Linked DNA regions of Homo sapiens. The protein of the gene in region 2 purifies or fractionates together with the protein of the main gene of each other region. This does not show direct contact. Each region holds a gene or a part of one and is shown on either strand. Other genes may lie near its edges. The genes, in order: VSIG4 and ZNF558.

Region 1 (3,820 bases), on a different chromosome or scaffold from region 2:
AAGAGGAGAGACTTTCTTACCTGGCTGCTTCGTAGACATGCTCTAGAAAAAAAGGAGGAATCATGTCAGAAGTTTTCATGGCAAGTGGACAAAGGTCAATCATGGATCCTGGGTACCAGTCAAAAGATGAGGGAAGGGTACAGAGGAGGGGATTTTAATATGTCTTAGCTTTCCAACAACTGGGAGGTATTGGGGAGGTGAATTGAAACACAGAGATGCAAATTTATCAGGTAAAAGAAGGGGAAGCACATTTGGTCACTATCCTTTTTGTCATCTTGGACTCAGGATATTGGGCTGGAGCAGTTTCTCGGTATGGGTTGGGGGAGGGCACTAGAACTGGACTTGCTCTTTACCCAGGAATCTCCCCCAAGGATCCCCAGAGAGTCCTTGTGGGAAACTTGACTGTCAGGCCACATACCAGGAAGAAGGGACTGGATTAGCCTGATGCTGATGGCCGTGACCCAAGACATTCCCAAATGCACTCACCCCCACTATATACCCAGGAAAAACCATGGTATTGGTTACCATTGCCCCCTAGTGTCTGTGGAGGAGGAGTGTCCTATATTCCGTACAGGCTCAAAGGCTTAGGTTGGTGCAAAGACAGATATTTCTTTGTACTGCCCTCTAGGTGCTTATAATTTTTCAGGGATGCAACTGGAAATGCAAGCATTAAATGACAACAAAGTAAACAAGGGAAGCCACAGGACTTCTGCCTTATGGTAGAGCCCTGCATTTCTGTGTCTTACTCGCCCATTGGCCTATGAGCACCTGTACCGCAAGGGTCGTGTCTTTTTCATCTTAATATGCTCAGCACCTGTCACACAATAGGTGCTCAGTAATTATGTTAAATTAAATTGATGCTCTGAGGCTGTCTCCCTTATACAGAGATAGGAAAGAGGAATTTTTGGAAATGAGACTAGGTATAAGGAAGTGGTGGGTTGAGAAAATTGGCTAGACCCACATCACAGAGAGCCTTGAATAGAATGCTACATTTTGACCTTTATCCCCTGGGCCATAAGAAGCCATGGAAGGTTTTTGAGAGAGAAACAATTTAATGTGGTTACCGCTTATGCCCAGCCTCATCAAGGCTATATGCAAATGCTTTCATTTTAGTGCCCCTGGGGTTTGTAGTCATGTGCTATCAAGTTCAGCCTCATGGTGATAAACATGCTAACTGGCAAAAGCCAGAGCTTATAATTGAAACCTGGGAGAAGGAGATACTCAAGGCTCCCTTCTGGTGATGGAAATCCATCAGATCCATGGTAGTAACCAGGCTATTTGGGAGTAAGAGATACTACAGAGAATAAGACAAATTGATGCTAGGCAACATGACTAGTGCACTGGGCATTGAGAGACAGCTAGTATTTTTTTCTTTTAGAAACAAGCATCCCAATTTTTTTCCTCCTCGGTTGGTTCATAGTTTTTAAATGGCTCTGACAACTGTGCTGTCATTATGCCACTTCCATGCTTGAAAAATTTGGTAAATTTAGTGCCCTTGCAAGGCCTAGTGAAGAAAGTCCAAATTATTTAACCTGGCATTTAAGGCCTTCTATAATCAGGAATAAGCTTTCATTTCCCACTGTACTTCCCTGTTGCCCATCTACAGAAATTTTCTTTATTGATGACCCCACTCTCAGTTGTCTTTTAGGCCCTAACAACTATGCTGATGTAGTTCTCTCTTCCTGAAATACTGTCTCCTTACAACTTGTTTTCATCCTCCAAAATGTGGTCTAAGATATTCTTCCTTCTGAAATCCCTTGCTAATTACCCAAGCCTTAAATTACTCTCTTCTCCTCTGGATCCCTTTAGCATTAATTGTCTTCTCTAGTTTTTGAGCTCATAGCCTCTATTGCTATGTATTGTCATTGATAAATTCCATGTTTCTACCTTGAATCTCCTAAATAAATTGTGAGCAACTTGAGGCCAGGGATTGTGACTTCTCCTTCTCTTGCATCATTACAAGATGACTCGTTAGAAAGATGGCTGTACTTCACTGAGTACCAAAGCCTAGTGCATTTAGTTCTGTAAGTCTTATGCCATTGTTTGCTCGAACATCTGCCTCCCTGCACCCCAACCTTAACTCCCAAACTAGGCTGGGAGCTTCTTGAAGTGCCTAACACAATGCCTGATACAGAATTTAGGCTCAAGTATACTGACAGAAAGAACAAATGAGCCAAAGCCACCTTCTCATATTCATCACTAACCTTGTTGGGATGTCTTCCGACAGAGCATGATATAGGCCATGGTAAAAACCACCATACAGCACAAGGAGATGATGAGGATGATGGCAAAGACAGGCAGGCTCTTTCCTAGAGGGTAAAACAAGATCAAGTGGTATTTGATTGAAAATAAGGCCAGAAACAAAAACTCTAAGAAACAGCCTAGACTAAGCCAGGCCTTTTTCTTTTTCATTTTCCATATTCTCCTAACCTTCTTAGCTAGCCAGAGAGAAAAAACTCCAGTCCCATGAGAAAGACTTGAGAAAGAGATGCCATGTGTAAACAGGTTCTTCCAGACTCACTGGTGGGCTGATTGGCCTGGGCATTTGAGCTAGTTGTCTATGCTTTCTATAGGGCCAAGACAGAAGGTTTTCACCTTCCCTTAGAAAAAAGAAAATAATATCCTGACTTTCCAGCTTCACCAAAAATGCTACATACCTTATTAAGATTCTGGTCAGTTACTTCTAGCCACAAAGATTCTTCCCATCACACGCTCTGGTCAAGTCCCCAGCTTCCTTCTTTCTCAAAACATATTTCCACTGAGCCACTTGAGACACATATTCCCATTATGCCTAAAAGCTGAAAGAATCAACTGGACTTGGCTTCCAGTCCTAGATCTGTTATTTACTTTCTGTATGACTATGGTAGGCAGAATAATGGTCCTCTAAAGATATTCACATCCAAATTCCTGGAACCTGTCAGTATGTTAGTTTACATAGTAAAAAGGAACAGAGATTTGAGAATGCTACATTGTTAGTTTTGAAAATGGAGGAAGGGGGCCATGAGCCAAAGAACGTGGGTAGCTTCTAGAAGCCAGAAAAGAAAGACAAGGAAATTAATTCTTCTCCAAACCCTCCAAAGGGAACATAGCCTTGCTGACTGACATTTTGATTTTAGCTCAGTGATAATTGTGTCAGACTTATTTCCAGAAGTGGAAGATAATATATTTATGCTGTTTTAAGATACTAGGTTTGGGGTAAGTTTTTACAGCAGCCATGGAAAAATGAATACAGTGACCTTAGACAAAACTTTGACTGTCACTAGGCCTTAGTTACCCCATAAGTTCAATGAAAAGATTGGATGATGTCTAAAGCACTTTTAGCTATAATATTCTGAATCTAAGATGCTAGGTCAGGGGGGATAGAGAGGCGTGAGGAAAGGAACCTCAGTGTACTTAGGATTTGTTGCTGCAACTGGCTTGTTTTCATGAGACTCTAAGATATCGTGTCCTAGGAATCCAGTATTTGTGGTCCTCAGAGTGTCTTGTTGGGACTGAGAGAGCTCAAGTTATAAGCTGGTACAAATCGAAGAAATATTCTCTTTTGAAGAGAGTCAAGTACTAAAAAACTTGGTAGAGAAAATAGGGCGCAGACCCAACATCTAATAACTTTGCCCAAGGTTATTTTCTCATTTTTCCAAACCAACTCCCTATGAGGCAATTTCTAACTTCTCTTCTCCCAGTAGATGTTCTTCTCGGAGAGGAACGGAGCTATGGAAATCTTGAAGCCAAAGATGGCAATGCAAATGTGGAACATAAAACAGGTTTGAGTGCTGCCAAGGGATAGCCAAAAAACTCTGCAATCAGGAATGGAGAGTTACAA
Region 2 (3,820 bases):
AGATTTACACTTACTGTTATCAAAACTTACTACAATGTAACAATAATCAAGGCATTGTGGTACTGACCCAAGGACAGATACATAGACCAATGGAGCCAGGAGCAGTGGCTCATGCCTGTAATCCCTGCACTTTGGGAGGCCCAGGTAGGCGGATCACTTGAGGTCAGGAGTTCGAGATATACAGACCAATGGAACAGAATTGAGAGTATGTAAATAAACTCCAGTGTGTATGGCCACATAATTTTCAATAAGGGTACCAAGGTCATTTGATGGGGAAAGAATAAAGGTGGTGAGACAACTGGATATACACACATGCAAAAGAATGAAGTTGACCCTTTCTCCACACCATAAGCAAAATTCACTCAAAATCTATCACACAGCTGAGTGGAATTGTTAACACTAGAAAATTCTTGGAAGAAAACATAGGGGTAGATCTTCATGACCTTGACTTGAGCAATGGTTTCTTAGGTATCACACCAAGAGCACAAGCAAAAAAGAAAAACTAGATACAACAGACTTCATCACAATTAAAATTTTTTTTGTCTTCTGAGACGGAGTCTCGTTCTGTCGCCTAGGCTGGAATATAGTGGATCTCGGCTCACTACAACCTCTGCCTCCCAGGTTCAAGTGATTCTCTTGCCTCAGCCTCCCGAGTAGGTGGGATTACAGGCACCTGCCACCACGCCTGGCTAATTTTTGCATTTTTAGTAGAGATGGGGCTTCACTAAGTTGGCCAGGCTGGTCTTGAACTCCTGACCTTAAGTGATCCATCCATCTCAGCCTCCCAAAGTGCTGGGATTACAGGCGTGAGCCACTCTGCCTGGTCACAATTAAAACTTTTGTGCATCAAAGGACACTATCAAGAAAATGAAAAGACACCCAAAGAATAGAGAAATCATTTATGTATTATATTTTGAATAAGGATTTGGTACCCAGAATATAAAATGAACTTTTAAAATCCGACAACAAAAATAAACAACCCAAGTAAAACATGGGCAGAGGACTGGGAGCGGTGGCTCACACTTGTAATGCCAGCACTTTGGGAGGCCAAGGCAGGCGGATCATTTGAGGCCAGGAGTTTGAGACCAGCCTGGCCAACACAGCGAAACCCTGTCTCTATAAAAAATACAAAACAATTTAGCCAGGCATGGTGGCACATGCCTGTAATTCCAGCTACTTGAGAGGCTGAGGTATGAGAATCACTTGAACCCGGAAGGCAGAGGTTGCAGTGAGCCGAGATCGTGCTGCGCCACTGCACTCCAGCCTGGGCGACAGAGGGAGACTGTGTCAAAACAAGCAAACAAACAAATAACAACAATAACAAAAATGGGCAAAGGACTTGAATAGACATTTTTCCAAAGAAAAATACTCAACAAGTACATGAAAAGATGCTCCATGTCATTTGTCATTAGAAAAATGCAAATCAAAACAAGAACGAGATAGCACTTCATACCTACTGGTATGAGTATAATCAAAAAGGCAAGTGCTGGGAAGATGCAGAGAAGCTGGAACCCTCCTGCATTGGCGGGAACGTGCAATGGTGCAGCTGCTGTGGAAAAGTCTGGCAGTTCCTCAAGAAGCTAAACACAGACCTAGCCTTCCACTCCTAGTATATGCCCAAGAAAATGGAAAGTGGGCATTTAAACAAAAGCTCGTACACAAAAATTCATAGTATTATAGCATTATTCTTGATAGTCAAAGAGTGGAAACAACTCAAATGTTTCTCAATAGAAAAATGGATTGGCAAAATGTGGTATGTCCATACAATGGAATATCATTCAGTCATAAGGAATGAAGCGCTGGTACAACATACAACATAGCTAAGTTTTTTTGTTTTGTTTTTTTTGAGACACAGTTGTGCTCTGTTGCCCAGGCTGCAGTGCAATGGCACAATCTCAGCTCACTGCAACCTCTGCCTCCTGGTTCAAGCGATTCTCCTGCCTCAGCCTCCTGACTAGCTGGGGATAGGTGTGTGCCACCACGTCCGGCTAATTTGTATTTTTAGTGGAGATGGGGTTTCACCATGTTGGTCAGGCTGGTCTCGAACTCCTGCCCTCGTGATCCGCCCGCCTCGGCCTCCCAAAGTGCTGGGATTACAGGTGTGAGCCACCACACCTGGCCCATAGCTAAGTTTTTAAAACACTGTGCTACATGAAAAGTCAGACACAAAAGGTAATGTATTTTGTAATTACATTTATATGATATGTTCTGGATAGGTAAATTCCTAAAGACAGACACCAGATGAGTGGTTACCAGCAGCAGTGGGTAGGGAAAGTAACGGGTATTGGCTGCTTCATAGGGACGGGGTTTCCTTCAGGGTGATGAAAATATGGTGATATTAGATAGTGTTGATGGTTGCACAATACCATGAATGTATGAAAAACCACTGGACTGGATATCTTAGAATGGTTAAAAATGGTGAATTTTATGTTGTATGGATTTTACCACAATAAAAAAAGTAAGCAAAGCAGGCAAGTGTTGCCACTGGAGTCATTAAATAAATGCAGGAATGACATTAGGCTTACCTAGTGAGGCCAGGTTCCTGCAGTTCTCCAGCATCACATCCCTGTACAGTGTCCTTTGGGCAGGGTCCAGCAACGCCCACTCCTCCTGGGTGAACTCCACGGCCACATCCTCGAAGGTTACCAAGCCCTAAAGCATTGCAAACATCACGGCTTAGCCAAGGACCACCCCCACCAACGTGCACAGGAAGAGGGGCCAGGAGAACAGAGCCAGGGCTGGGGAAACCTGAGCACGAGATGTTGGGGGGGGTGGTTCTGAGCTCACCTCCCAGGGTTCTGAGCTCCTCTCCCAGGGTTCTGAGCTCCTCTCCTGGGGTTCTGAGCTCTTCTCCCTGGCTTCTGAGCTCAGCCCTCAATGCTTGTCTCCTTAGGCCATTCCCAGGTCCAGTGCACAGTACCACAGAGCAGCTGCCTTTTCTCACTCAGACTGGGAGCTCCTGTGATCTTATTTCCCTCAATCTCCAGGGGATCATGGGCCCGTGACATGGCAGAAAGCAGAGAAATACTTGGTAAGTGAATGACTGATTTCCGTGGCGTTTATTAATTGCTTGGGTTTAGAACATCATCACGTCTTTACTTGGCTTTCCCTTAAAACTCTCAGGAGCACATGATGTACTCAGGGACCCTGGAGGGAGCTCTGAACCTGCAGTAAATGTTGACACACACTGACATTTTCTGGGCAGCCCTCACCCTCCATCTGATGCCTGGAAATCCTGGGATGCCTGAGGACCTGGTTTGGCCATGAGGCTCCAGGCTGCTGGAAGGTATCAAGTCCAACCTTCTGGCCAAAGGAATAATGATTTGGGAAAAGGAACATCTGACTCACCCGTAGCCAGCTTGTCAGGAGCTCATTAACCAGCTCTCCGCCCTGTGTGTGTCCTTTTTGCTGAGAGGCTGGGAACAGGGAAGACGGAGCTGGAGGAGGAGAAATGAGTCCCATGGATTCAGGCTTGTCTGACACCCACAGATCTGCCCCTGATTGACCACACCCACCTCCCACACCCACACGGATGAGGCACCACACAGTGCCCACCTACGCTCCATGCAAACACCTACCCACAGCTCTCCTAAGATACCCAAACACAGCCCTGTCTCACCAACCAAAGACAATAGGGCTCAAGGTCTGACTGCACTTGGGGAAGGGATTATTCCCACTTCACAGATGAGGAAACAAGTTCCAAGGGCGTCACTGTGTTTTTATCAGATTCACAGAAAGAACTAAAGGGAGAATTCAAAAGCTCCAGCACATTCACCACACAGGTGACATCCACAGACACCCAAATGCCTAAGTCCCAAAT

The links.
Region 1: the proteins of ZNF558 (region 2) and VSIG4 purify together in Homo sapiens (affinity purification with mass spectrometry; one large-scale study listed by BioGRID and IntAct). This does not show direct contact.

Annotation. Positions count from the first base shown.
Region 1 is NC_000023.11:66,022,821-66,026,640, forward strand, and holds part of VSIG4 (V-set and immunoglobulin domain-containing protein 4 isoform 1 precursor), read right to left. Parts: intron 2,310-3,820; coding exon 2,205-2,309; intron 43-2,204; coding exon 21-42; coding exon of another isoform or gene 17-20; exon of another isoform or gene 1-16. UniProt on the Homo sapiens protein: Phagocytic receptor, strong negative regulator of T-cell proliferation and IL2 production. Potent inhibitor of the alternative complement pathway convertases.
Region 2 is NC_000019.10:8,818,655-8,822,474, forward strand, and holds part of ZNF558 (zinc finger protein 558), read right to left. Parts: intron 3,439-3,820; exon of another isoform or gene 3,438-3,438; coding exon 3,349-3,437; exon of another isoform or gene 2,788-3,348; intron 2,653-2,787; coding exon 2,526-2,652; intron 1-2,525. UniProt on the Homo sapiens protein: May be involved in transcriptional regulation.